3 separate regions of the Homo sapiens genome follow, and regions 2 and 3 are each linked to region 1. Evidence: fine-mapped expression QTL. A gene starts in region 1. Each other region holds a variant in brackets. All regions are shown on one strand. Distances are from middle to middle. Region 1 holds the start of WDR18 (WD repeat domain 18). Region 2 overlaps ARID3A (AT-rich interaction domain 3A). Region 3 overlaps ABCA7 (ATP binding cassette subfamily A member 7).

Evidence for each region.
Region 2: its variant is fine-mapped to the expression of WDR18 in nucleus accumbens (GTEx, PIP 0.95).
Region 3: its variant is fine-mapped to the expression of WDR18 in subcutaneous fat (TwinsUK, PIP 0.95).

What each region holds. Positions count from the first base shown.
Region 1 is chr19:976,731-986,524 of GRCh38, forward strand. It overlaps WDR18 (WD repeat domain 18), which reads left to right and starts at 7,615. Exons shown (of 10, transcript NM_024100.4): 1 at 7,615-7,833; 2 at 9,135-9,245. The coding sequence starts at 7,624. RefSeq lists enhancers at 3,335-3,925, 3,876-4,020, 7,209-8,150, 7,575-7,724, 7,755-7,934, a cis regulatory region at 3,941-3,954 and silencers at 5,881-6,270, 7,435-7,524.
Region 2 is chr19:950,034-959,827 of GRCh38, forward strand. The region is part of intron 3 of ARID3A (AT-rich interaction domain 3A); the gene reads left to right. Among named protein-coding and RNA genes, the nearest start is that of ARID3A, 29 kb to the left of the region's middle. RefSeq lists enhancers at 1,534-1,613, 2,332-3,033, 3,034-3,735, 5,140-5,841, 6,544-7,245 and silencers at 3,717-3,925, 5,131-5,390, 7,621-7,813. The variant C/A (reference allele first, on the strand shown) is at 7,667.
Region 3 is chr19:1,045,655-1,055,127 of GRCh38, forward strand. ABCA7 (ATP binding cassette subfamily A member 7) reads left to right here. Exons shown (of 47, transcript NM_019112.4): 13 at 576-752; 14 at 1,148-1,370; 15 at 1,503-1,724; 16 at 1,799-2,000; 17 at 3,241-3,351; 18 at 3,612-3,783; 19 at 5,267-5,398; 20 at 5,501-5,640; 21 at 5,795-5,932; 22 at 6,288-6,472; 23 at 6,560-6,632; 24 at 7,675-7,877; 25 at 8,134-8,182; 26 at 8,352-8,456; 4 more. Among named protein-coding and RNA genes, the nearest start is that of ABCA7, 10 kb to the left of the region's middle. RefSeq lists silencers at 5,462-5,626, 5,883-6,083. The variant A/G (reference allele first, on the strand shown) is at 5,221.

The sequences.
Region 1 (9,794 bases):
GGACTCGCCTCCTCTCTCCCTCCCTACTCAGGGCATGGATTTCAGTGTGTGCAGCCTCCTGGGACCCCAGCAGGGCCGAGGATCATGGGATGCAGAGTCTGTAGGGGGTCCATGGAATCCCCTAACCCAGAGGGCCTTAACCAGGGTGATTCCGCCCCCAGGGGACCCTGGTCCATGTCTGGGGACATCTGTGGTTGTCCCATCTGGGGGGAGCTCCTGACATGGAGTGGGTGAAGTCCAGGGACGCTGCTCGGCACCCTGAGTGCCCAGGACGTCCCCACCCCAGAGAAGGATCCAACCGCAAGGTCCACAGGGCCGAGGGGAGCTCCTGGAGGCCGCTCTGGGCACCTCTGTGCCTCGCTGAGAGCCCGACACCAATCCCGTTTTAGGGATTTGGGATGACAGGTGTGGCAGGGCCAGTGTGCGCACCCCCAGCCACCTGCCCACGAGCCTGACCCCTCGCCTCCTGCCTCAACAGGGCTCTGCATGCGGGCGCCCCTGGCGTTATCCGACCGGAGCTCCCAGGGCAAGTGGCCCGGTCCGGCCTCAGGGCCTTCACACAGCTGTTCCACCGCCGGGAACAGCCCTCTCCCCCTTTGCTCTGACAGACTCCTTTCCATCCTCTGCAGCCGACACACAGTCCCCGCCTGCCCATGACAGGAGGGTGCGGCCCCTCGGGTGGGAGGCACGGGGCTCCCCGCTCCTCCGCCCTCTGTGCGGCCCAGATGGAGGCCCTTGTGCCGAGCGGGACACCCTGTTCCCGAGCCCCCCATAAGTTTGCCCTCCTTCACCTCCTAGGCGAGCCCAGGAACCAGCCCACTGGTGAAGCCGCCTGGAGCTGAGGCCTCTGGGGTTCAGGGGCGTCCTGGTGGCTGGGGGAGGGAACTTTTCCAGTGCTGGCCACATTTTCACCTTTTCCCTTACAACACCATTCGGGTCCTAGGAAACAAGACCAAGGGCCAGATTTGGCCCCTGGACAGCCAGTTTGCAGCCCCCAAACCCAGAACATAGTAAAGGGACTCAGCTGGGGTCAGAGGTTCACACCCGTAATCCCAACACTCGGAGGCTGGAGCGGGAGGATGGATAGAGCCCAGGAGTTTGAGACCAGCCTGGGCAACATAGGGAGACCCCATTTCTACCAGAAATTAAAAAAAAAAAAAAAAGCCGGGCATGGTGGCTGCGGTGAACAGTGATCATGCCATTGTACTCCAGCCTGGGCAACAGCAAGACCCTGTCTCTCTCTCTCTCTTTTTTTTTTTTGAGACGAAGTCTCGCTCTTTCTCCCAGGCTGGGGTGCAGTGGTGCATTCTCGGCTCACTCCAACCTCTGCCTCCCAGGTTCAAGCAATTCTCCTGCCTCAGCCTCCCGAGTAGCTGGGAGTATAGGCGCCCGCCACCACACCCGGCTAATTTTTGTATTTTTAGTAGAGATGGGGTTCCACCATGTTGGCCAGGATGGCCTCGATATCCTGACCTCGTGATTTGCCTGCCTTGGCCTCCTAAAGTGCTGGGATTACAGGCATGAGCCACTGTGCCTGGCCCCTTTTTTTTTTTTTTTTGAATCAGGGTCTCACTGTGTCAACCAGGCTGGAGTGCAATGGCACAATCTTGGCTCATTACAACCTCTGCCTCCTGGGTTCAAGCGATTCTCCCAACTCAACCTCCCAGGTAGCTGGGATTACAGGCACGCGGCACCACGCCTGGCTAATTTTTGTGCTTTTAGTAGCAACGGGTTGGGTTTTCACCATGTTGGCCAGGCTGGTCTCGAACTCCTGACCTCAAATGATAACACCCACCTTGGCCACACAGGGCCAGCCGGGACCCTGTCTCTTAAAAATAATAATAAAAGGCCGGGCACGGTGGCTTACGCCTGTAATCCTAGCACTTTGGGAGGCCAAGGTGGGTGGATTGCCTGAGCTCGGGAGTTCGAGACCGGTCTGGGCAACATGGCAAAACCCTGTCTCTACTAAAATAAAAAAAATTAGCTGGGCGTGGTGGTGTGCACCTGTAGTCCCAGCTTCTTGGGAGGCTGAGGCAGGAGAATTGCTAGAATCTGGGAGGCAGAGGTTGCAGTGAGCTGAGATCAACCCACTGCACTCCAGCCTGGGTGACAGAGCAAGACTCCATCTCTAAAAACATTAATTAGGCCGGGCGTGGTGGCTCATGCCTGTAATCCCAGCCCTTTGGGAGGCCGAGGCGGGTGGATCACGAGGTCAGGAGATCGAGACCAGCCTGGCCAATATGGTGAAACCCCGTCTCTACTAAAAATACAAGAAATTAGCTGGGCGTAGTGGCGGGCGCCTGTAGTCCCAGCTACTCAGGGAGGCTGAGGCAGGGGAATGGCATGAACCCAGAGGCGGAGCTTGCAGTGAGTCGAGATCACGCCACTGCACTCCAGCCTGGGTGATAGAGCGAGACTCCGTCTCTAAAAACATTAACTAATTAATTAATTAAAAATTAAAAAATAAAAGGCCTCTCGTTCTTAGCCCACAAACCCAAAGAAAGTGGTATTGCAACGTTTTCCCAGGAAAGGGTTTCCTGGGCCGCCTAACCCACTGTCCACCCTCCCATTGCCCACGCCCAGGGGACGTGACTGGAGGAGGGTCAGCGTGGCTGGAGGTGGACAGGCCCAGACTCAGCTGCCCGGCCTCCCGCGCACCATCCTGGCCGAGGCTGGCCGGGACACGTCCCTCCCCAGGGCTGTGTTGGAGGCGAGGGACCAACAACACCCCCACACCTGTCCCAGCCGGTTGGTTCCTGAAACCCACGTTAGACCCTGGCCCCGGAAGGGAAAATGGCATTTTCCATTCCAGCCAGAAATGAGTCTGCCAAACCCTGCGTCCCGGAGATGGAGTCCCACTCACTGCCTGGAGGAGCCCGCCGGCCCCAGGGAGAGGAGGGAAGAACCCTGGGAAAGCCCCCACCCCAAACTGGATCGTCAGGCCCTGCTTGTTCACCCGCAGCTGAGGGCCTCAGAGGCGGGGAGTCAGGGAGGGGGTGCACCTCTGAGTTCCCCAGCCTGGGAGGGAGGGACTCAGCCCCCAGCTCTCCCCAGCCAGGGAGGGACTCAGCCCCCCACCTCCTCCCCAGGCCCCCACCTCTCCCCAGCCAGGGAGGGACTCAGCCCCCCACCTCCTCCCCAGGCCCCCACCTCCCTCCCCAGCCAAGGAGGGACTCAGCCCCCCACCTCCTCCCCAGGCCCCCACCTCCCTCCCCAGCCAAGGAGGGACTCAGCCCCCCACCTCCTCCCCAGGCCCCCACCTCCCTCCCCAGCCAAGGAGGGACTCAGCCCCCCACCTCCTCCCCAGGCCCCCACCTCCCTCCCCAGCCAGGGATGGACTCAGCCCCTCACCTCCTCCCCAGCCCAGGAAGGGCCCAGCCACCCCCTAGCCTCTCAGAGCCCAGCCACCTCCCTGGGCCGCCTGCTAGGTGCTTGCTAGGAGGGCGGGAGGCTCCCGGAGGTGAAGCTCAAACCCTCCTCTGATAGCCGATTTTCGGAGCCAGCCAAGAGTCCAGACTGGAGAGGCGGCGGCTGAGACGCTTCCAAAAGCAGAGGGCTACCAGAGCCGGCTGCTGCTCTCCCCACTGGCATAGGTAATGATGGGGCTGCCGCGGGACGGCCGCAGCTGCTGGGTCTGTGGGGCCAGGACCGGGGCAGCCAAGCCGACTGGGGTCTGGCTGGGTTCATCAGTGCCTGCAAACTGGCGGTGCTCCATAAATGTGCAGGGGATGGAGAATGAGGGCCTTACACCCCGAGGGGAACGTTCCTGCCTCTGTGCCTCAGTTTCCCCTTCCTGGTTACCCCCCCTTCACAACCTCCAGCTGGCACCAACGAGATCCGGCCGCTGGGTGGTCTGGAGATGCCCCCAAAGTGTGGCTTCTGTCCCCTGCTCCAACACGATTAGTCTGTCCTCATTCCAGGAACCAGGCTGGGGGCGGGGTGACCTCTGACCTCACACTGCAGCCTGGCCTGGCCACGTCCCCAGGGAGGGGAGGAGGGGAGGAAGGCCTGGCTCGGGCTGGGCCGCAGCAGGAGGCCTGTGAGAAGGTGGAGACTGTAGTCCATCGACTTCCTGCTGCCCCTGCCCTCTCCTGCCTGTGGCAGCAGCCCACACCTGCCCGGTCTGCTGGGTGTCCTGGAACCCGGGAATTTAAAAACTTCCAGGCTGGGCCAGGCGGTGGCTCATGCCTGTAATCCCAGCACCCTGGGAGGTCGAGGAAGGAGGATGGTTTCAACCCAGGAGTTCAAGACCAGCCTGGGCAACACGGCGAGAGCCCCTATCTATGAAAAATTAAAACGCTAGTCAGGTGTGGTGGTGTGCACCTGTGGTCCCGGGAGGCTAAGGTGGGAGGATCGCTTGAGCCCTGGAGGTTGAGGCTGCAGTGAGCTATGACGGTACCACTGCACTCCAGCCTGGGCGACAGGGCCAGACTCTGTTAAGAAAAACTAAAAATGAACCAGGCGCAGTGGCTCACGCCTGTAATCCCAGCACTTTGGGAGGCTGAGGCGGGCAAATCACGAGGTCAGGAGTTTGAGACCAGCCTGGCCAACATGGTGAAACCCCGTCTCTACTAAAAATACAAAATAAATTAGCCGGGCATGGTGGCACATGCCTGTAGTCCCAGCTACTCCGGAGGGTGAGGCAGGAGAATCGCTGGAAACCAGAAGGCGGAGGTTGCAGTGAGCTGATTGTGCCATTGCACTCCAGCCTGGGCAACAAGAGCAAGACTCAATTTCAAAAGAAAAAAAGAAAAAGAAAAATGAAAAAAAAGGCCAGGTGCGGTGCCTCACGCCTGTAATCCCAGCACTTTGGGAGGCTGAGGCAGGTGGATCACCTGAGGTCAGGTGTTCGAGACCAGCCTGGCCAACATGGTGAAACCCCGTCTCTACTAAAACTACAAAAATTAGCCGGGCGTGGTGGTGAACACCTGCAATGCCAGCTATTCAGGAGGCTGAGGCAGGAAAACCACTTGAAGCCAGGAGGCGGAGGTCGAAGTGAGCTGAGATCACGCCACTGCACTCCAGCCTGGGCAACAGAGTGAGATCCACCTCTCCTGCTTGTCTACAAAAAACAAAAATAAATAAAGTAAAAATTAAAACAAGGCCAGGCACAGTGGCTCATGTCTGTAATCCCAACCCTTCGGGAGGCCAAGGTGGGAGCATCATTTGAGCCCGGGAGTTTAAGACCAGCTGGGCAATAAAGCAAGACCCTGTCGCTGCAAAAAAAGAAAAAAAAAAAGCACAAAATTAGTTGAGTGTGGTTCCTATGGTTCCAGCTACTCGGGAAGCTGAGGTGGGAGGATGGCTTGAGCCCAGGAATTGGAGACTACAGTGAGCCATGATTGCACGATTCTCCTGCCTCAGCCTCCCGAGTAGCTGGGATTACAGGCATGCACCACTGTGCCCAGCTAATTTTTGTATTTTTAGTAGAGACGGGTTTCACCTTGTTATCCAGGATGATCTTGATCTCGTGATCCACCCACCTCGGTCTCCCAAAGTGCTGGGATTACAGGCCGGAGCCACCACGCCCCGCCGATTTTTTTAAATAATGTTTTTTAAATAATGTTGGAGGCCGGCCTCAGTAGCTGACGCCTGTAATCCCAGCACTTTGAGAGGCCGAGACGGGCAGATCACCTGAGGTCAGGAGTTCGAGACCAGCCTGGCCAACGTGGTGAAACTCCGTCTCTACTAAAAATACAAAACTTAGCTGGGCGTGGCGGCTCACACCTGTAATCCCAGCTACTCGGGAGGCTGAGACAGGAGAATCGCTTGAACCCGGGAGGCAGAGGTAGCAGTGAGCCGAGATCGCACCATTGCACTCCAACCTGGGCCACAGAGCAAGACTGTCGCAAAATAAAGAAAGAAAATAAAAATGAGGTTGGAGGAAACTCTGGAGGCACAGCAGGTCCTTGGATTGGACTCCCTCCCTCCCTCCCAGGATAAAATGAAATCCAGGCCTCGTTCACACGGCCCTGCACGGCCCGGCCCCGCTCCGTGGTCCTGCCCCAGGGCCTTCGCACGGGCCTGCCCCGCACACGGTTCTCTGGGGGTCGCTGGCTCCCCGCTCAAACGGCCCCTCCTGCCGACCAGGCGGGTCCCCGGGGCCGCCCTCCCTCTGGCCTGGGCTCGGGGTCGGTGGCTCGCGCCTGCCACCTGGCGGCCAGCGGGGCTGCGGCGCCGCACGCTCTGGCACCAGCCTCCTGCCCCGGCCGTGCCCTCCGCCGGGAGCCGCGGACCAGGAGTCGCACCGCCTCCGGGGACCGCACCCCGCATGCAGCCTCCAGCCCCTGCCTCTTGCTGCTCGAGGGCACACGACCCAGGTCAGCTGCAACCCCCGGGCGGAAATCCCGACTTTTAAATGAATGCTCCCTTTTTATCCCTTTTTAAGGGGTTGGCAACTAATTGCACATTTTAAATCATACTGTTTTTAGGCCGGACGTTGTGGCTGAAGCCTGTAATCCCAGCGGTTTAAGAGGCCAAGGCCTAAGCCCAGGTGTTGGAGACCAGCCTGAGCAACACAGTGAGACCCCCCATCTCTACTAGATATATATTTAGTATAAATAAATAATAGATATATGTTTTTCTTTGAGACAGAGTCTCATTCGCCCAGGCTGGAGTGCCTGGGATCTCGGCTCACTGAGACCTCCGCCTCCCGGGTTCAAGCGATTCTCCTGCCTCAGCCTCCCACCACGCCCGGCTTTTTGTACTTTTTGTAAAGACGGGGTTTCGCCATGTTGGCCAGGGTAGTCTCGAACTCCTGATCTCAGGTAATCCACCCACCTCGGCCTCCCAAAGTGCTGGGATTACAGGCCTGAGCCAAAGCGCCCGGCCTTTTTTTTTTTTTGAATGCCGTTTTCAGACATGGTCCGTGACGGGCAGCCGTGACATGAAGTTAGACCCTGCTTGGCTCGGACAGAACTGGCGACTTGTTTGACCTACACCAAGCTATCCGACTAATAATTTAGATGTTGAGGCCCCTAAAGAGGGGTCAAGGGGGAGGCAGATGTCGACCAATAAGGAAACACTGGGCCGGGCGCGGTGGCTCACGCCTGTAATCCCAGCACTTTGGCAGGCCGAGCTGGGAGGATCACTTGAGCTCAGGAGTTCGAGGCCAGCCTGGGCAGGACAGTGAGACCCTGGCTCTACAAAACTAAATAAATAAGGAAGCAGTGAATTCCAATGTATTCATCGCCAACTAGCCATGTTGCTGGGTGTGCGCTCTCTCTTTTAGGCGCAATGTGTCATTTAGGCCTGTGACGTCGGAACTTTATTATTTGAACATTTAAAAATAAATGAATCCAAGAGCTTGAGTCACTTGGCCAAAAATGCCCAGGAGGAAAAGGCCAAGTCAGGTACCCCGGCTCTAGAGCTACTAACTGATCGCCGGAGACCCTGGGCCTTGGAAGAAGTCGCCTCCCCAGATCTCTAAGCAGGCCGCGCGACCCTCGAGTCTCAGGTAAGCGGGAAATCCCACTTCACAAGAAAGCCCCTCTCTCCGAGGCACGGGCGCATGCGCGGGTCGGCCACCCGCTGGGGCCGCGGGGCCGCCGCTCTGGCCCGCGTGGGGCAGTCGTCCGCGTCTCGCTCATGATGACGCACGTCCGGGGCGGTGGGGAAGGCAAGATGGCGGCGCCCATGGAGGTGGCCGTGTGTACGGACTCGGCGGCCCCGATGTGGAGCTGCATCGTGTGGGAACTTCACTCGGGCGCCAACCTGCTCACCTACCGCGGCGGCCAGGCGGGACCCCGCGGCCTGGCGCTGCTCAATGGCGAGTATCTGCTGGCGGCGCAGCTGGGCAAGAATTACATCAGCGCCTGGGAGCTCCAGCGGAAGGTGCGGCGGTGCGGTCTCGCTGCTGGGGTCATGGGGCGCCCGAGGCTGAAGTCGGGGGATGGGTTGGTGGGGGCCGCGTGCACCCTTAGTCGGAATTGGCGTGGGGAGGGGAGGTGGTCTCCGTTCGGGCGCTCTGCGCATGCGCGGGTCTGGGGGCTTTGGGGAGATACGTGCGACCTGTTAGGCCGCTCTGCGCACGCGCGGGGCTCAGGCCTGAGCTGCTATGGGGGCAGTGGGGGAAAATGGGAGACGCTCCGGGGGGTCCCTTGGGGCAATTGCGCATGCACGAGTTCTTGGAGCGCGAAATTTGATTAAAAGGGGCCTATGAGCTCTGTGGATGTTGTGGTTCTGGAGGAAAAGGGAGAAGGACCAAGGTCTGGGGGAGTCTCCCATGAAGGGGTGGCGCAGGAAACTCATGTTTATTCCTCCAATAAAGCAACAGATACTCACCGTCGCCCACAGTTTCCCCTCTACTCCCAAGCCCAAATGCAGCCAGTCCCTGAAGCTACTCGCTTCCCCCGTGTGCCCGCTGAGATCTCTTGGGACTGGCTCTGTGCTCCAGCATTGCCTGATGGAGTCTACACACAACTCATAAATTTCTCCCATTTTATTTTAGTTTTGAGACAGGGTCTCACTCTGTCGCTGAGGCTGGAGTGCAGTGGTGCGATCTCGGCTCACTGCAGCCTCTGCCTCTAGGGTTCAAGCGATTCTCGGGCCTCAGCCTCCTGAGTAGCTGCAACTACAGGCCCGCACCAACCACCACACCCGGCCCACATTTGTATTTTTTGTAGAGGCAGGGTTTCACCATGTTGGCCAGGCTGGTCTCGAACTCCTGACCTCAAGTGATCTGCCCACCTCAGCCTCCCAAAGTGCTGGGATTACAGCCGTGAGCCACCACGCCCGGCTGAGTTTTCCCATTTTAGAGAGGAGGAAGCTGAGGCTTGGGGTCTTAGGTTGGACATTATGGATAGAAGGATTGGGGCACAAGCCTACTGGGCTCTTGGGCCCCAGTGTCCTTCTGGATCCTCTTTGTTCTGTTCCTGTACTCCTCCCACCCAGGGCCCCTCTGACCCTCAGAGGAAGCACCAACCTCACATCTACCACCTCCAGCCTCGAAGCCTCTTGCAGGGGCGAACACTTCCTTGCTGGACCATGCATTTGCTCAAACCACCCTGCTCCCGACTCCTCTTCCTGGTTCTCTGACTTAGCCATTGCCCAGGCGTCCCCTCCCCTCGCCCTCCACTGCTGTAGTAGCTCCCGTGTCCTGCATGGGGCTCACGAGGCTGACTGTGCATCCTTAGGACCAGCTCCAGCAGAAGATCATGTGCCCCGGGCCTGTCACCTGTCTGACTGCATCACCCAATGGTCTCTACGTCCTGGCAGGAGTTGCAGAAAGCATCCACCTGTGGGAGGTAAGAGGAGCAAAGCGTGAGCGTTTCCCACAGGACATCTCAGCCCATCTGAGCTTTGCCTGCAGGGCACCAGGGAACAACCATGCGGCCTGGGGCCCTGGGATGGGTGACTGCTCAGGGGTTATAGCCTAAGCTTCACCCTGCTGCCTCCTTTCTCCAGGTCCCCTCGAGACTTGCGAATCCCAGACCAGCCCTAATCCTGCCTTGAGTGCTTGGATAGAGCCCGGTGCAGCCCAGTCCCCGGCACTCACACACCGCAGCATCTTCCAGGGCTAGCGGGCATCTCTTCCACGCAGGCGGCAGCGCCTGGCACTTGTGACTTGAAAGTTATAAAGGGCGGCCGGGCGCAGTGGCTCATGCCGGTAGTCAATGCAACCTCTGCCTCCCAGGTTCAAGCAATCCTCCTGTCTCAGTCTCCTGAGTAGCTGGGATTCCAGGCGCCCACCACCACACCTGGCTAATTTGTTTGTATTTAGTAGAGAAGGGCTTCACAATGTTGGTCAGGCTGGTCTCCAACTCCTGACCTCAGGTGATCCACCCGCCTCGGCC
Region 2 (9,794 bases), 27 kb before region 1:
AACGGATGGATGAGGCCGTCCCCAGAGTGAACGGATGGATGAGGCCGTCCCCAGAGTGAACGGATGGATGAGGCCGTCCCCAGAGTGAACGGATGGATGAGGCCGTCCCCAGAGTGAACGGATGGATGAGGCCGTCCCCAGAGTGAACGGATGGATGAGGCCGTCCCCAGAGGGAACGGATGGATGAGGCCGTCCCCAGAGGGAACGGATGGATGAGGCCGTCCCCAGAGGGAACGGATGGATGAGGCCGTCCCCAGAGGGAACGGATGGATGAGGCCGTCCCCAGAGGGAACGGATGGATGAGGCCGTCCCCAGAGGGAACGGATGGATGAGGCCGTCCCCAGAGGGAATGGATGGATGAGGCCGTCCCCAGAGTGAATGGATGAGCACCCAGCCTGAGCCCGGGAAGGTGCTGAGGGTTAGCACAGGCCGCCTGCTGCTGCAGGAGTGAGAGGGGCCCACTCAGGGAAAGAGGGGTTCAGGGGGAGCAGCCAGGTGTGTACAGATGGCTGTAGCCATGTGGAGGCGCGCGTGGGGACCGGCAGGCAGGCAGGGAGTTGGGCTTTCTTCTGGGAGCAGTAGGGAGCCACGGTTGACCGTGGAGCAGGGGAGAGACCTGGTTTGATCTTGGTCTTGACTTCCAAGCCCCTTGGTCCCTCCGACCTTGGAGGCTGCTGGAAGGAGAGGGCATCTCATTTACCATCCTGGCTGCTTCATGGGGATTTGGGAGATAAAAAGCAGCTCTTTCAGTTTAACTTTGGTTGTAGGAGTCACAGTGAATTAGTTCTTTATTTTGTTTTTTTTTTGAGGTGGAGTTTCACTCTTGTTTCCCAGGCTGGAGTGCAATGGCACGATCTCAGCTCACCACAACCTCTGCCTCCCGGGTTCAAACTATTCTCCTGCCTCAGCCTCTTGAGTAGCTGGGGTTACGGGCATGCACCACCACGCCTGGCCTATTTTGTATTTTTGATAGAGATGGGGTTTCTCCATGTTGGTCAGGCTGGTCTCAAACTCCTGACCTCAGGTGATCCGCCCGCCTCAGCCTCCCTAAGTGCTGGGATTACAGGCGTGAGCCACTATGCCCGGCCAGGATTCTTTCTTAAAGAAGAGACGGGGTCTCGCTGTGTTGCTGAGGCTGATCTCAAACTCCTGGGCTCAAGTGATCCTTCTGCCTTGGCCTCCCAACGTGCTGGGATTACAGGCGTGAGCCACCACACCCAGCCTTTTATAAGATCTTTTAAGGCCAGGCGCGGTGGCTCATGCCTGTAATCCCAGCACTTTGGGAGGCCGAGGCGGGCGGATCACAAGGTCAGGAGTTCAAGACCAGCCTGGCCAACATGGTGTGAAACCCCATCTCTACTAAAAATACAAAAATTAGCCAGGAGTGGTGGCAGGTGCCTGTGGTCCCACCTAATCGGGAGGCTGAGGTGGGAGGATCACTTGAGCCCAGGAGGCTGCAGTGAGCTATGACTGCATCACTGCACTCCAGCCTGGGCGACAGAGTAAGACCCTGTCTCAAAAAAAGGAAAAAAAACAACGTAGACTAAAGAACCAAACCTCAGAGTTCCCCGGCTGGTCTGGGTGGGCCTGGCTGTTGGATGAATTCTCTTTTTCCCTCTGACCCTTCAGCCCCGCTGGGTGCGTGGGCGCCTGGGAGGCTCAGGCTGCTGCCCGGAGGGGGCGGCTGCTGACTCAGATCTATTGCTGCTGCTTCTGAGCATCCGCAGACCTATATCTGGCCTTAGAGGAAAACATACTTCTTCAGTTTCCCAGAAGCCATATTGGACAGTGCAAAAACGTGCCTTTTAGAACATTTCTCAGGCTGGGCACAGTGGCTCATACCCAGAATCCCAGCACTTCGAGAGGCAGAGGCGGGAGGATGGCCTGAGGTCAGGAGTTCAAGACCAGCTTGGCCAACATGGTGAAACCCCGTCTCTGCAAAAAATTTAAAAAAAAAATTAGCCAGGTGTGGTGGCACGTGCCGGTAATCCCACCTACTTGGGAGGCTGGGGCAGGAGAATCGTTTGAACCCGGGAGGCGGAGGTTGCAGTGAGCTGAGGTCACACCACTGTACTCCAGCCTGAGCGACAGAGCGAGACTCGGTCTCAAAACAAAAACAAAGTGTCTCAGGCTGGGCGTGGTGGTTCATGCCCAGAATCCCAGCACTCTGGGAGGCCGAGGAGGGAGGATCACTTGAGCCCAGGAGTTTGTACCCAGCCTGGGCAACATAGCAAGACCCCATCTCTACAAAAAAAAGTTAAAACTGGGCATGGTGGTGTGTGCCTGGGGTCCCAACTACTCCAGAGGCTGAGGCAGGAGGATCACTTGAGCCTGAGAGGCTGAGGCTGCAGTGAGCTGTGATCGTGCCAGTGCACTCCAGCCTGGGCCACAGAGCGAGACCCTGTCTCAAAAAAAAAAAAAAAAAAAAAAAAAAGGAAAGAAAATTTCTCTTCTTCTGACATCTCTCTGCCAAGTCTCGGGCCAACCCTCCTGGAGGCTCAGTCAGGCCAACCCTCCTGGAGGCTCAGGGCTCGGCAGTCCCCAAACGCTAGACACTTGGATTCTTTCTTGGATTTCCCTGAATTCTGTGGCCAAAGAGAGCGTCTGAAGGGCTGCAGCTGACCAGGTGCCTCCCAGCTCCTGCACCCCTCCCACCCCTGCCGTGGCCTCATCCCCAGGTGGGGCCTCATGGACTTTGGAGCCTCCTGGGAGACTGGAGGGGGCCTGGGGGGCAAAGGTTCTCCCAGGGGGCCCTGCAGACAGGCGGTTTCTTTACAGCCTGGGCCTCTGGGCCCAAGGACACCGCCCTGGGCCCCCCGCAGCTGCTGGGACCTGGTGGGAGTGCCCAGGTGGGGCCTGCCTGGGGACTGAGTGGGGAAACCATAGCCCCCCTGTGACCTTGGGCACTGCCCACCTGTGACCTTGGGCACTGCTGGGGGAGGGGCCGCATGTGCTGGCCCCGGCCACCCTCTTCTGTCCTGGCCAACCCTTTCCTTGGATTTTCTGCAAACCTCTGGGGTCTTTTTCTGACCTTCCTCCCACCTCCCAGAGCCGGTGGGCTGGGGAGGGGAGTCCTGAGCCGGGGCTGAACTCCCTGGTTCTAGGGGTGGTCCGGGCAGCCGGGGAACCCCCTCCCCACTCCCAGGTGGCCCTGGGACTTATCTTGCACCCTGTCCGCCAGCAGACTCCACTGACCCCCTCGGAGCTGTCGTTTCTCTGGGAGGTGGGGTGGAGAAAATCATCAACGTTTCGCCACAAACAAGAATTTCCTGTTTGCCCTTCCAGGGCTGGGGGGTGGCGGTTATCTCACTTTTTCCTCCCCTCCCCCACCGGCGCCACCACCCGAGCCCCGCCACCCTCTCTCCTCACAGGTGCCCCCTCCAGAGGGGCCCGGTCCTCATCAGGTGGGGGCGGCACCTCCCACCCCCCCAGGCCTCCCACACCCCCCCCCGTGCAGAGCCGGGGGAGTGTCAGGGTCGGGGGCCACAGCGTCTTCCCTCCATCCCCAGAGCCACGGAGTGTGTCTTGCAGATCCGTGTAACGGGGCTCGGGCGTGCAACCTTCTGGGAAGAAAACCAAAGAGGAATGAAGGGGTCAGAGGCTGAGGGGGGCTGTGGAGGGGGCTCTGTCAGAAGGCGACGTTTGGGCGGGAAGGCAGGAGCCGAGCGGGGACCCGGGAGCTGCATTCCAGGCAGAAGGAACAGCGCCGCGGAGGCCCTGGGGTGGGGGCCTGTGCGTTTTACATAGAAAGACGCCAAGGCTGGGTCTGGGGGCTCCTGCCTGTAATCCCAGCGCTGTGGGAGGCTGAGGCAGGAGGATCACTTAAGGCCAGGAGTTTGAGACCAGCCTGAGCAATATAGCAAGACCTTGTCTCTATAGAAATACAAAAATTAGCCGAGCGTGGTGGTGCCTGCCTGTGGTCTCATTGGCTCAGGAGACCGAGGTGGGAGGTGGAGGCTGCAGTGAGCTAGGGTCTCACCACTGCACTCCAGCCTGAGTGACAGAGCGAGACCCTGTCCCTAAATAGGGCAGCTCAAGGCCGGGGCGGAGGGAGCAGGAGAGGGCAGGGAGGGGCCAGGAGGGTGCTGGGGGGCCCTGGGAGGCTGTGGCCGAGGGAGGGTCATGCTCAGATGTCTGTGAAAAACCCCCCACCCCACCCAACTGCTGAGTGGGGAAGGGTCTGGCAGGAGGGGCGGCCGGGGGACCTGGAGGTGGCTTGGCTCCACGCGCTCTGTGCCTCGGTTTCCCCTTCTCCGAAGCAGGTGGTGCTGGGAAGGGGAGACGATGGGCCCAGCCTTGGTAATTAGGGGTCCACACCTTCCATCCCCCACAGCAGGAAGTGGACAGAGGGGAGGGGACCCCCTCAGGGAAAGACCCCCAGGCCTGCCCTGTGGCCCCGCATTTTCTTGGCATCGCACTGAGAAAGCAAGTTCATTTAACATGCATTTATTAGGCAACTGCTGTGTGCCCGATTTTGGATGCTGGCAACAAGATAAGAATTCCGCATGTTCCAGGGCAGACAGACGAGAGACAAATGCGTGAATCCACACAGCTGGGGCCATGCGAGGGCTGGGGGTCCAAGGGGGGCCGTGAGCCAGAAACCCCGTGAGGCCGGTGGTCGGTAAAGGTGGGTGGGAGCAGAGCATCTGCGGAGGTGATATCGGTCCTGGGAGGACGGGGGGCTCCCCTCCAGGGAGGGAATGACCACAGGGGACCCAGACGAAGGGAAGGGGCTGAGAAGGCCTCGCAGACGGGAGGAACAGCCGGGGCGAAGGCGGCCGCTCGGGGCTGATGGGGGGCGGTGGGGGTCTCAGCGGAGGGGCACCTTCAGAACTTCACACCCGACCCCTCCCGTGATCAGAGCAGGCCCCAGGGAGGTCAGGCGGCGTGGAGGGGAGTGCGGGCCGCTTATCTCGGCCCTCAGCCCCTGGGGAGGGAGTTTCCGGAGATTTTGCCCAATCTCCAGCCTGGGTTTAGGGCTCCTGTGGGTGTGTGGTGGGCGGCTGATTTCAGAGCTTTCTGGTTGACGTTTCAGAGGGGCAGGGTTTCGGCCACAGAACCCAGGTGAGAACCAAGGCCTGGGTTTGCCATGGGGTGTGCTGTGGCCCAGCAGTTCAACCCGGGATCTGGCCCACAAGGGGGGCCTGGACACCGCCATGGGCAGCCTGGACACCGTCCCCTGCTTTCCCATCCCTGGGGCCTCGGCCAGCTGGCCAGGGCGGGGCGCCCCCCACAGGGGAGCGGAACCGGGGGCCAGAGACCCATAAAGCCCAGGCGGCCTTTACTGCTGGCTTTGTTGCTGGCTGCCCACAGCAACGGCCATTAGAGCCGCCTCCCCCGCCAGCAGCTGGGGCCCCCGCAGGTCCTCCCTTTACTGCCACGCATCAGTGCCCCGGCCCCACAGGGGTCTGACCGTGCCTCGCCACCGGCCCAGTTCGCCCACCATTTGGCCTGGGAGTTAATGGCTCCCCTCTCCAACCCCAACCTTGGCTGGCTGTACATGGGGCAGCTGATTGCTGCCTGGCGCCTCGGTTTCCCCATCCGGGATGTGAGGGTAGCTGGGGCGCCAGGTGCTTGGGGTAAAGCTGCTGTGTTTTCTCACACACTCTATTTGAGAGATGGGGAAACTGAGGCAGGAGGTGCGGTGAGGTTTCTTGTAGGGGCTGTGCCAGGGAAGGGGGGGTCCAGGCAGGGTAGACCCCGTAATACCGGGTCAGAATCTCAGAGGAGAGGACCTTCCGCTCGCCCTGGAAGGGCCCAAGGTGTGCTGGCCTCTACGTGCGGTTCTTAGCCGGGGGGCTGCGTAACGAAGGACCTCAAACCGCGGGCGTAAAACAAACGAAACCTGTTCTCCCTCCGTCCTGGAGCCCAGAGTCCAAAATCGAGGCGTCCGCAGGGCTGCGCTCCCTCCAGGGGCTGCAGGAGGAGCCTTCCGCCTCTCCCAGCTCCTGGGGGCTCCAGGAGTCCCTTGACATGTGGCCGGCCTCTGTCTCTGTGCGACCGTCTCCAGTGCCCACCGGCCTTCACTGTGACTTTTTCTCAATTTGATCACGTCTGCAAAGGCCCTTTTTCCAAATAACGTCTCGTTCTGAGGTTCTGGGCCGATGTGAATTTGGGTGGGGGATGGCGTTCACCCCAGGACAGCCCCAGCGGTGAAGTCCTCCCCATTCCAGTACCTGCTGCCTCAGGCGTTTCCCTGGCAAGCTCGTCCTGTCCCCCTCTCCGCCCTGTCCCCCTCTCCGCCCTGCCCGGCTCACTTTTGCAGCTGAGAAAATCAAGGTTCAAGTAACGAGCATTTATTAGGCAACTGCTGTGTGCTCGGCTGATTCCAGACTCTGGGAACAAAACAGACTAAACCCCAGATACACTCCTAGATCCGTGACTCGGTGATGGACGGGGTCTCGGAGGAAGAACGTGGAGGGGAGGGGGCGGCAGCCGGGCCGGGGTCAGAGGACGAGGCCGGGCGTGTGGCCATGTGTGCGTGCCTGTGCTCATGGGACCCACCGGCCCGGCCAGCCGGGTCTACCTGAGGGCCCCACACCCCTCAGGCAGCTGAAGGGGAAAGGGCCTCCCCGGCCACCATAAATCAGCGCAGGAATGCAGGCTGGCCAGTCTGGCGCTGGCCGGGTTGGGGCGGAGACAAAGACCAGGCAGCTGGACCTCGGGCAGCCTCGACCACCCAGGGCAGAGGTCAGGACTCCTGGCTGCCCCCCCAGCCCCTTCCCGGAAGGCCTCACTGGGCCTCCAATACACAGACGGGGAAACTGAGGCCCAGAGAGGGGCAGGACGGCTGCAGGGTGATGGGGCCTTTGGCCGGCCTCCCCAGCACCTGGGATGTCCCCGCAGCAGCAGGGGCTGGGCGTGGGTCTCCTTCTGGGCCCTAATGACCGATCATCCCAGCTGAGGCCTAATTGGTGGTTTCAAGGCTCCCCACTGCCCAGCCAGCCACATTCCCCCGAGCTTAATTGGCAGCCTGGTATTTGTCGCAGCTCCTCCTCGGCAAATTGGCCCCCGCCTGAACTCCGCTTTCTAATTATCCCTGCCGGCTTTCCCCCACCCTGCCCGCCCGAACCTGTGGGTGGGGGGGGGCGCTGGGGGACCTCCTGGCTCCTTGTACCCCAGACGGAGCCTCTTTCCCCTCTGGAAGACGTTCCGGGGCCTGGTGATCTTCTTCCTCCCCAGCCACCACCCTGGCAGGCAGAGGCGGTCGGTGGCTCATTTCATAGCTGGAGGCTGAGACTCCAGGCTCCAGGTGCGGGGAAGCCAGCAGGAGACAGGAGGACCGGGATGGGAAGCAGGGCGGGGCTCTGGGCCAAGTCCCCAGCAGCCCCCAGGCTCTGGTCCCGCACTCGCCGCTGTGTCTCAGTTTCCTCACCTGCAAAGCAGAGCCAGTTCTCGGAACAAATGCGCTCCCGTCCGACCCTCAGGACAGCCCCGGGAGGCATGCTGGTGAATTTTTGCAGCGATTTGCTGTGTGAACTCAGGCAGGCACTGTCCTAGGGTAAATTGTGTCCCCCAAAGAAAAGGTGGAGGGCGGTGGCTCCCGCCTGTGACCCCAGCACTTTGAGAAGGCAACACGTGAGGATCGAGGGAGCCCAGGAGGTCGAGACCAGCCAGGGCAACATAGAAAGACCCATCTCTACAAAAGAAAATGTAAAAACTTAGC[C/A]GGGTGTGATGGCGAGTGCCTGTGGTCCCAGCCACTTGGGCAGCTGAGGCAGGAGAATCCCTTGAGCCCAGGAGGTTGAGGCTGCAGTGAGCTATGATTGCGCCACTGCACTCCAGGCTGGGCAACAGAGTGAGACCCTGTCTCCAAAAACAAACAAAAAAAAGACTTTGGGAGGCTGTGGCAGGCGGATCACTTGAGGTCAGGAGTTCAAGACCAGCCTCGCCAAATAGTGAAACCCTGTCTCTACCCAAAAAATACAAAAATTAGCTGGGCATAGTGGCAGGTGCCTGTAATCCCAGCTACTCAGGAGGCTGAGGGGGGAGAATTGCTTGAGCCCCGGAGACAGAGGTTGCAGCGAGCTGAGATTGCGCCATTGCACTCCAGCCTGGGCGACAGAGCGAGACTCCATCTAAAAATAATAATAATAAAAATTAAAATTAAAAAAAAAAATAGGCTGGGCGCAGTGGCTCATGCCCATAATCCCAGCACTTTAGGAGACTGAGGCAGTCGGATCACGAGGTCAGGAGACCATCCTGGCCAAATGGTGAAACTCCGTCTCTACTAAAAATACAAAAAAATTAGCCGGGCGTGGTGGCGGGCGCCTGTAGTCCCAGCTACTCCAAGAGGCTGAGGCAGGAGAATGGCGTGAACCCGGGAGGTGGAGCTTGCAGTGGGCCAAGATCGCGCCACTGCACTCCAGCCTGGGCGACAGAGCGAGACTCCATCTCAAAAAAAAAAAAAAAAAAGAAGAAAGAAAAAGAAAAGAAGAGGACAGGTTCAAGCACTGGATTCCCAGTACCTGTGACAGGACCTCATTTGGAAACGGGGGAACTTACTGACATACAATCACGTGTTGACACTTTGGTCAACCTCAGACCGCAGATGGGACGGTGGTCCCACAGGATTAGAATTCCATATTTCTAGTGGCTCACGCCTGTAATCCCAGCACTTTGGGAGGCCGAGGCGGGCGGATCACGAGGTCAGGAGATCGAGACCATCCTGGCTAACACGGTGAAGCCCCGTCTCTACTAAAAATACAAAAAATTATCCGGGCGTGGTGGCGGGCGCCTGTAGTCCCAGCTACTCGGGAGGCTGAGGCAGGAGAATGGAGTGAACCCGGGAGGCGGAGGTTGCGGTGAGCCGAGATTGCACCCCTGCACTCCAGCCTGGGGACAGCGAGACTCCGTCTCAAAAAAAAAAAAATTCCATATTTCTTGTGCACCTTTTCTGTGTTCAGCTGTGTTAGACGCACAGACACTCATGCTCACGTTGCCACTGCCTACGGGACCCAGGACAGCCACAGATTTGTAGCCCAGGAGCGCTGGCTGGGCTGTGCCTGTGCCTGGGTGTGTGGGAGGCTCCACCCGTGAGGTGTGTGTGACTCACTGTTTGATGTTCACACTGACGAAATCACCAACAGACATTTATCAGGACGCATCCTGCACGAAGACAGAGGCAGAGGCTGGAGCGACGCGGCCACAAGCCCAGGAACCTGGAGCCCCCAGAAGCCGTGAGAGGCAGGAAGGTTCCTCCCTTGGAGACTTCGGAGGGAACGCAACCCTGCAGACATCTTTTGTTTTGTTTTGTTTTTAGAGACAGGGTTGCGTTCTGTCGCCCAGGCTGGAGTGCAGTGGTGCGGTCTCGGCTCACTTCAGCCTCCACTGCCCAGGCTCAAGCAATCCTCCCACCTCAGCCTCCCGAGTAGCCGGGACTGTAGGCATGAGCCACCCCACCTGGGTAACTTTTTGTTATCATAATGTAGAGATGGGGTCTCACTATGTTGCCCAGGCTGGTCTTGAATTCCCGGGCTCAAGCGATTCACCCGCCTCCCAAGGTGCTGGGATTACAGGTGTGAGCCGCCACCCTGAAGAGAAGTTGGTTTTGGACTTCTGGGCTCCGGGACCGCGGGAGAATAGATTTCTGTTGCTTTAAGCTGCAACGTGTGGCTGTAAGGGAGTTAAGGATCGATTTGAGATGAGGTGGCCCTAAAACCAGCAGGCTGGTGTCCTGAGAAGAGGAGAGAGAGACGGGGAGACGGTCTTGTGGAGACGGAGGCAGAGACTGGAGCGCTGCGGCCACAAGCCAGGACGCACCTTGATCTGGGGTTCCCGGGCCCCTGGACCGGGAG
Region 3 (9,473 bases), 69 kb after region 1:
GCCTCCCCCCCGCCCCCCTCCCCCACCAACCTCACGAAAATATCTTTAAAAATTAGCCAGGTGAGGCCGGGCACAGTGGCTCACGCCTGTAATCCCAGCACTTTGGGAGGCTGAGGCGGGCGGATCACGAGGTCAGGAGATCAAGACCATCCTGACTAACTCGGTGAAACCCTGCCTCTACTAAAAAAAAAAAGTACAAAAAATTAGCCGGGCGTGGTAGCACGCGCCTGTAGGCCCAGCTACCCAGGAGGCTGAGGCAGGAGAATCGCTTGAACCCAGGAGGCGGAGGTTGCAGTGAGCCGAGATGGCGCCACTGCACTCCAGCCTGGGCGATAGAGCGAGACTCCGTCTCAAACAAATGAATAAATGAATAAAATTAGCCAGGCGACTTGGGAGGCCGAGCTGGGGGGATCGTTTGATCCCGGGAGGTCAAGGCTGCAGTGAGCTATGATTGCAGCTCTTCACTCCAGCCTGGGCGACAGAGCAAGACCCTGTCTAAGAAAAAGGTTATTCAGGGTGGGGCCCCGGGAGTTTCTAGCCCTTCCCTACAACCGGCCACCATGCCCCTCTCGCAGGTTTTGGGACCCTGGCCCAGCCGCGGACCCCCTGACCGACCTGCGCTACGTGTGGGGCGGCTTCGTGTACCTGCAAGACCTGGTGGAGCGTGCAGCCGTCCGCGTGCTCAGCGGCGCCAACCCCCGGGCCGGCCTCTACCTGCAGCAGATGCCCTATCCGTGCTATGTGGACGACGTGTGAGCTCTGGCACCCCTCCCCGCTCTTCCCCGCGGCGGGAAGGTCCCGGGTGTGGGGGTGGGCCCAGGCTCTGTTGGGAACCTTCCTGCGGTCCAGGCTGCGAACTTTGCACCTTTACACCACTCCACGTGACCTGCTGCAGCGGGAGGAGCAGGGGACTCTGAGGGTCTGGTGGGGGGGGGGACTCTGAGGGTCTGGGGGCCCCCGGCGCAGGGACAGCCTGGGCTGCACTGATGCCTGAGAGCCAAAGGCTGGCTGGATCAGGTTCCAAGGAACAGGGAGGCAAATCTTCCCGCCTTGAGATCCCGGGACACGAACCAGTCGTGCCAGATGGTGGGCGGAGGGGGGGTCTGCGGAGGGTCTCCAGCCTCCACCCCAGCCGTCCCCACCCCAGGTTCCTGCGTGTGCTGAGCCGGTCGCTGCCGCTCTTCCTGACGCTGGCCTGGATCTACTCCGTGACACTGACAGTGAAGGCCGTGGTGCGGGAGAAGGAGACGCGGCTGCGGGACACCATGCGCGCCATGGGGCTCAGCCGCGCGGTGCTCTGGCTAGGCTGGTTCCTCAGCTGCCTCGGGCCCTTCCTGCTCAGCGCCGCACTGCTGGTTCTGGTGCTCAAGGTGGGCGCGCCTCGGCCTGCCCGGCTGCAGAATGGGTGCGCTGGAGGGTGACAGACAGGGGCGGCCCCACGTGGGTGCGCGCCCCCAGGCCAATCCAGGAGCTGCACCCTAAGCTCCCGTTGCCTCTCACAGCTGGGAGACATCCTCCCCTACAGCCACCCGGGCGTGGTCTTCCTGTTCTTGGCAGCCTTCGCGGTGGCCACGGTGACCCAGAGCTTCCTGCTCAGCGCCTTCTTCTCCCGCGCCAACCTGGCTGCGGCCTGCGGCGGCCTGGCCTACTTCTCCCTCTACCTGCCCTACGTGCTGTGTGTGGCTTGGCGGGACCGGCTGCCCGCGGGTGGCCGCGTGGCCGCGGTGAGAGCCGGGTCGGGCGTGGATGGGGGACGCCCCCCGCTTCGGCCGCTCACTGACCGCCCGCTTTTCCGCAGAGCCTGCTGTCGCCCGTGGCCTTCGGCTTCGGCTGCGAGAGCCTGGCTCTGCTGGAGGAGCAGGGCGAGGGCGCGCAGTGGCACAACGTGGGCACCCGGCCTACGGCAGACGTCTTCAGCCTGGCCCAGGTCTCTGGCCTTCTGCTGCTGGACGCGGCGCTCTACGGCCTCGCCACCTGGTACCTGGAAGCTGTGTGCCCAGGTGGGCCGTAGGGGGCGGGGCTCCGGGCCGGGTCGCACCTGCTTTGCGGGAGGCTGAGCTAGGGGTGTGGCCTCCAGGCCGTTTGGGGGTGGGGGGTGGCTTATTCCCTTGGAGAGAAGGCGGGGCTTCTTGGCACACGCATGCAGGTGGCTGCATTGGAGGGGCGGGGCCTGAGGCAGGTGGGCGGGGTTTCTGGGCCGCCTCATACCTGGACGCCCTGATTCCAGGTGTATGGCCAGAAGCTGGCACAGTCGCCGGGCGCTGTGGCTCACGCTTGTAATCCCAGCACTTTGGGAGGCCAAGGCAGGAGAATCGCTTGAGCCCAGGAGTTTGAGACCAGGCTGGGCAATATAGTGAGACCTCATCAATACAAAAAGTTAGCTGGGCGTGGTGGCACGCTGGGCGTGGTGGCACGCTCCTGTAGTCCCAGCTACTCGGGAGGATGGGGTGGGAGGATCACTCGAGCCCAGGAGGTTGAGGCTGCTGTGAGCCGTGATCCCACCAGCCTGGGCAACAGAGTGAGACCTCCATCTCTTTAAAAAAAAAAAAAAAAAAAAAGCTGGCTGGGTGCGGTGGCTCACGCCTGTAATCCCAGCACTTTGGGAGGCCGAGGCGGGCGGGTCATCTGAGGTCGGGATTTCGAGACCAGCCTGACCAACATGGAGAAACCCCGTCTCTACTAAAAATACAAAATTAGCTGGGTGTGGTGGCGGGTGCCTGTTTCCTAGCTACTTGGAAGGCAGAGGCAGGAGAAATGCTTGAATCCCGGAGGCGGAGGTTGCGGTGAGTCGAGATCGCGCCACTGCACTCCAGCCTGGGCAACAAGAGTGAAACTCAGTCTCAAAAAAAAAAAAACAAAAAAAAAAAAAACAAGGCCGGGCACGGTGGCTCACGCCTGCTTTCCCAGCACTTTGGGAGGCCGAGGTGGGCAGATCACGAGGTCAGGAGATGGAGACCATCCTGGCTAACACGGTGAAACCCCGTCTCTCCCAAAAATACAAAAAATTATCCAGGCATGGTGGCGGGCGCCTGTAGTCCCAGCTACTCAGGAGGCTGAGGCAGGAGAATGACGTGAACTGGGGAGGCGGAGCTTGCAGCGAGTCAAAATCGTGCCACTGCACTCCAGCCTGGGCAACAGAGCAAGACTCCGTCTCAAAAAAAAAAAAAAACAAAACCCCAAAAAAAGCCTGGTACACTCCTGGGGGGTGGGCTAAGCAATAACCCGCGCCCCTCCCCGCAGGCCAGTACGGGATCCCTGAACCATGGAATTTTCCTTTTCGGAGGAGCTACTGGTGCGGACCTCGGCCCCCCAAGAGTCCAGCCCCTTGCCCCACCCCGCTGGACCCAAAGGGTGAGGCACTACGAGGCTTAATAGCTGGTTGTCCACATATGCCCAGTTCCCCCCCAAAACGAGATTCCACAGATGCCAATGACAATGACCTGGACACCCCAACCCTCACACCTGCCCTGAAGACACTGCGGTCCCCAAGCTCCCGCAGCTTTTATAGGCCCCGGCCCAGCAGGTCCCGGATTCCACAGCCCAGCTCTGAGGGACTTGCAGGCCCCAGGACCCCCATGACCTCCATGGCTGAGTCCACCCCATCTCTGCAGTGCTGGTAGAAGAGGCACCGCCCGGCCTGAGTCCTGGCGTCTCCGTTCGCAGCCTGGAGAAGCGCTTTCCTGGAAGCCCGCAGCCAGCCCTGCGGGGGCTCAGCCTGGACTTCTACCAGGGCCACATCACCGCCTTCCTGGGCCACAACGGGGCCGGCAAGACCACCACCCTGTGAGCCCCCAACCACTCCCTCCCCGTGAGCCCCCCCACTCCCACCCCGTGAGCCCCCCCACCACTCCCTCCCCGTGAGCCCCCCACCACTCCCTCCCCGTGAACCCCCCACCACTCCCTCCCCGTGAGCCCCCCCACCACTCCCTCCCCGTGAGCCCCCCACCACTCCCTCCCCGTGAACCCCCCACCACTCCCTCCCCGTGAGCCCCCCCACCACTCCCTCCCCGTGAACCCCCCACCACTCCCTCCCCGTGAGCCCCCCCACCACTCCCTCCCCGTGAGGCCCCCCACCACTCCCTCCCCGTGAACCCCCCACCACTCCCTCCCCGTGAGCCCCCCCACCACTCCCTCCCCGTGAACCCCCCACCACTCCCTCCCCGTGAGCCCCCCCACCACTCCCTCCCTGTGAGCCCCCCGACCGCTCCCTCCCCGTGAGCCCCCCCACCACTCCCTCCCTGTGAGCCCCCCCACCACTCCCTCCCTGTGAGTTCCCCCACCACTCCCTCCCTGTGAGTCCCCCACCACTCCCTCCCTGTGAGCCGCCCAAACCACTCCCTCCCTGTGAGCCCCCCACCACTTCCTCCCTGTGAGCTCCCTGTGAGGCCCCCGACCAGTCCCTCCCTGTGAGCAGTAATGGCGCCACTGCACTCCAGCTTGGGCAACGGAGTAAGACCCTGTCTCAAAATAAATAGGGCGGGAGTGGTGGCTCACGCCTGTAATCCCAGCACTTGGGCAAGCCGAGGTGGGAGGATTGCCTGAGGTCAGAGTTTGAGACACAGCCTGGCCAATATGGCAAAACCATCTCTACTAAAAATACAAAAATTAGCCGGGTGTGATGGTGGCGTGCACCTGTAATCCCAGCTACTCAGGAGGCTGAGGCAGGAGAACTGCTTGAACCCTGGAGGCGGAGGTTGCAGTGAGCCGAGACTGTGCCGTTGCACTCCAGCCTGGGCAACAGAGTGAGACTCTGTCACAAAAAAATAAAAATAAACAAATAAATAAAAATAAGGCTATCACAGGGTTTTGGATGTAGCATTTAATAGGTGCTCTGTGGCCAGGCGTGGTGGCTCAGGCCTGCAATCCCAGCACTTTGGGGGGCCGAGGCGGGTGGATCACGAGGTCAGGAGATTGAGATCATCCTGGCTAACATGGTGAAACAGTGAAACCCCGTCTCTACTAAAAATGCAAAAAAATTAGCCGGACATGGTGGCGGGCGCCTGTAGTCCCAGCTACTCGGGAGGCTGAGGCAGGAGAATGGCGTGAACCCGGGAGGTGGAGCTTGCAGTGAGCCGAGATCGTGCCGCTGCACTCCAGCCTGGGCAACAGAGTGAAACTCCGTCTCAAAAATAATAATAATAATAATAATAATAATAATAATAATAAATAATTAAAAATTTTTTAAAAACAGAAATTAAAAATAGAAGCTCTGTAACTGCC[A/G]GTGCACTCTGTGAAGGGGGCTACTCTGAGACCCCTCTATCCACAGGTCCATCTTGAGTGGCCTCTTCCCACCCAGTGGTGGCTCTGCCTTCATCCTGGGCCACGACGTCCGCTCCAGCATGGCCGCCATCCGGCCCCACCTGGGCGTCTGTCCTCAGTACAACGTGCTGTTTGACATGTGCGTCTCGGCAGGCCCAGAGTGCAGCGGTGGGAAGGGACTGGACGCCCTCTGGGACTCTGCCTGCCATGTGGGTCACTCTGCTCTGTGCACTGGCCGCAGGCTGACCGTGGACGAGCACGTCTGGTTCTATGGGCGGCTGAAGGGTCTGAGTGCCGCTGTAGTGGGCCCCGAGCAGGACCGTCTGCTGCAGGATGTGGGGCTGGTCTCCAAGCAGAGTGTGCAGACTCGCCACCTCTCTGGTGAGCCCATCCCCAAGGGAGGTCACCTCACAGGGAGGGGCCTGGGGATTCATCCTGAAGGCAGGGGGAAGCCGGGTACTGAGGTCCACGTGGGTAGGCAACCTTGCCCAAGGCTGGGTGTGACACACTGAGGTCCCTTCCCCATCTCTACCAGGTGGGATGCAACGGAAGCTGTCCGTGGCCATTGCCTTTGTGGGCGGCTCCCAAGTTGTTATCCTGGACGAGCCTACGGCTGGCGTGGATCCTGCTTCCCGCCGCGGTATTTGGGAGCTGCTGCTCAAATACCGAGAAGGTAAGAGCTGGGGATTCTGCTCGAGGGGCCAGAAAAGGCTTCTGACAAGGAAGTGCTGGGGATGGGGTTTTGAGGAATGAGTAGGAGTTTGCTACATGTGGACCCCACTTGTTGCTATGGCATTTAGGGGCTACTGCTCAAATACCGAGACAGTAAGAGTTGGGGATAGACAGAGGTTCCCCTGGATTCTGCCTGAAGGGCCAGAAAAGGTTTCCAACAAGGAGGTTCTGGGGATGAGGTTTTGAGGGATGAATAGGAGTTTGCTTCATGGGGCAGACAACTCCTGGCAGAGGCCCCAGCTCGGGCAAAGACGCGGCGGCCTGATGGTAGTTGTGGGTTGGTCCCCCGTGCCTAGGTCGCACGCTGATCCTCTCCACCCACCACCTGGATGAGGCAGAGCTGCTGGGAGACCGTGTGGCCGTGGTGGCAGGTGGCCGCTTGTGCTGCTGTGGCTCCCCACTCTTCCTGCGCCGTCACCTGGGCTCCGGCTACTACCTGACGCTGGTGAAGGCCCGCCTGCCCCTGACCACCAATGAGAAGGTGGGGACCGGCCTTCTCCTGACCCCTGACCCCCGGGACTCTGTTCAGCCCTGAAGGCCAAGCCACTTGGTGCCTCTCTGCCCGCAGGCTGACACTGACATGGAGGGCAGTGTGGACACCAGGCAGGAAAAGAAGAATGGCAGCCAGGGCAGCAGAGTCGGTGAGGGCCGGGGTGGGAGACCCAAGGCGGGTGGGCAGTGGGGTGGCTGTGCCTTAACTTGAGGAGGAGGAGGGGGAGGGGGAAGAGGAGGAGGAGGGGGAGGAAGCGGCAGAGGAGGTTGAGGCGGAGGAGGAGGGGGAGGAGGAGGGGGAGGAGTAAGAGGTGGAAGGGGAGGCGAAGGGGAGGAGTAGGAGGGAGAGGAGGAGGGGGAGGGAGAGGAGGAGGGGGAGGAGAAGGGGGGAGGAGGAGGGGAAGGGAGAGGAGGAGGGGGAGAAGAAGGGGAGGAGTAGGAGGGGAGCAGAAGGGGAGGAATAGGAGGGGGAGGAGGAGGGGGAGGGAAAGGGGGAGGAGAAGGGGGAGAAGTAGGAGGAAGAGGAGGGGGAGGAGAAGGGGGAGGAGTAGGAGGGAGAGGAGGAGGAGGGAGAGGAGGGGGAGGAGAAGGAGAGGAGGAGGAGAGCACTTGAGAACCTGAGATGATGCCCCCATCCCTGGGCTGAGCCGGAACCATGAGACTAACTTGAACACTGACCCCACCTTTAACCCAACCAGGGCTGAGCCCAGAGACAAACCTACCCCTGACCTCCAACACTAGGTCCAGCACTGCCCTCAAGATCTCTTTTTGTTTGTTTCTGAGTCTTGCTCTGTCGCCCAGGCTGTAGTGCAGTGGTGTGATCTCAGCTCACTGCAACCTCTGCCTCCTGGGTTCAAGCATTTCTCCTCCCTCAGCCTCTCGAGTAACTGGGATTACAGGTGGGTTCCACCATGCCTGGCTAATTTTTGCATTTTTGGTAGAAATGGGGTTTCACCATGTTGGTCAGGCTGGTCTCAAACTCCTGACCTCAGGTGATCTGCCTGCTTCAACCCTCAAAGTGCTGGGATTACAGGCGTGAGCCACTGCGCCCGGCCGCACCTGGCCTACGTTCTTAACCCTGATCTCTGTCTGCCGGGACAGTCCCCTCACAGGTCACCAATGCCTCTTCCCCAGGGAGACTGGGGTGGGGCGTGAGCCGGGGCTCCCTGAAGCACCCCTTTGTCCACACAGGCACTCCTCAGCTGCTGGCCCTGGTACAGCACTGGGTGCCCGGGGCACGGCTGGTGGAGGAGCTGCCACACGAGCTGGTGCTGGTGCTGCCCTACACGGGTGCCCATGACGGCAGCTTCGCCACACTCTTCCGAGAGCTAGACACGCGGCTGGCGGAGCTGAGGCTCACTGGCTACGGGATCTCCGACACCAGCCTCGAGGAGGTGTGAGGCCTGGGTGGTGGTGAGGTGGGGCCAGGAGGAGGGCTTCCTGGAGGAGGTGGTGTTTTGAAGGATGAATAGCGTGTTTATGAGCAGCAAGGACATTCAGGGAGGAGGCATGGCACATGAGGAGCTCTGGTGGCTCAGATGTCCCTTGGGAAGGCCTGGGGGACCCATGGTGTAGGAGGGGTGGGGGGCTCACAAGCCCCCAGTTCTCCCTGTCGGTGTCCAGTCTCTGAGCCCCTGCTTGTCTCCCCAGATCTTCCTGAAGGTGGTGGAGGAGTGTGCTGCGGACACAGATATGGAGGGTGCGGCCACAGCTCCCTGACCCCTGACCCCAGTCCAGAGTGGGACCAGAGGCCAGGTCCCCATCCCTGGCTTAGTGTGGCCCAAGGCATAGCCTTTACCCTATACCTGATTCCTGATCCCCCAATCCGTGACCCTCAACTTTGACCCTGACCCCTGATGGCCCTGCAGATGGCAGCTGCGGGCAGCACCTATGCACAGGCATTGCTGGCCTAGACGTAACCCTACGGCTCAAGATGCCGCCACAGGAGACAGCGCTGGAGAACGGGGAACCAGGTAAGTCCTTCCCAGTGGCCCTGGGGTCCTCCCAGCCACCCCCCCACAGCAGCGTGAGCACTGACCCTCTCATCCCTCACAGCTGGGTCAGCCCCAGAGACTGACCAGGGCTCTGGGCCAGACGCCGTGGGCCGGGTACAGGGCTGGGCACTGACCCGCCAGCAGCTCCAGGCCCTGCTTCTCAAGCGCTTTCTGCTTGCCCGCCGCAGCCGCCGCGGCCTGTTCGCCCAGGTGAGGAGGGCTAGCACCAGGGAGTCGCATGGGAGTCCCTGAGTTCCCTACCCTGGCCGTCCACTCAGTGGCCTAATCCAAACCCTTACCCCCGTGTGTATTCCCAACCCAAAGCACATTTATTGAGGGCACTGGGGAGCCATGGGTGGTTGTAGAGCAGGAGCAGGGACAGGTGCAAGCAAGCCTGGAGGGTGGATGGAAGCAGCAGCTGATGGGCTGGTCCCCCAGATCGTGCTGCCTGCCCTCTTTGTGGGCCTGGCCCTCGTGTTCAGCCTCATCGTGCCTCCTTTCGGGCACTACCCGGCTCTGCGGCTCAGTCCCACCATGTACGGTGCTCAGGTGTCCTTCTTCAGGTGGGTGCAGAAGGAAGGGGCTGGTGGCAGGAAGACTAGGGACCTGGGGGTACAGCCCTGACCCTACATCTCCCCTCACACACAGTGAGGACGCCCCAGGGGACCCTGGACGTGCCCGGCTGCTCGAGGCGCTGCTGCAGGAGGCAGGACTGGAGGAGCCCCCAGTGCAGCATAGCTCCCACAGGTGAGGCGTCTTGTTGGCCTGGACCTTTCCCCTCTCTGGCCTCAGTTTTCCCATCTGGTCCCTGGCCAGGGAGCCTCAGGGGGCACCTGGAGCATCCCCTGTGCCCACCTGGGAGCTGGGAGCCTCTGTGGCTCCAGGAACCCCCAGAAGCTGGGTGCCCACAGACCTTCACCTTGACCCTGCAGCGCCCTTGAGTGTGCACAGCCCATTGTCTGCAGGTTCTCGGCACCAGAAGTTCCTGCTGAAGTG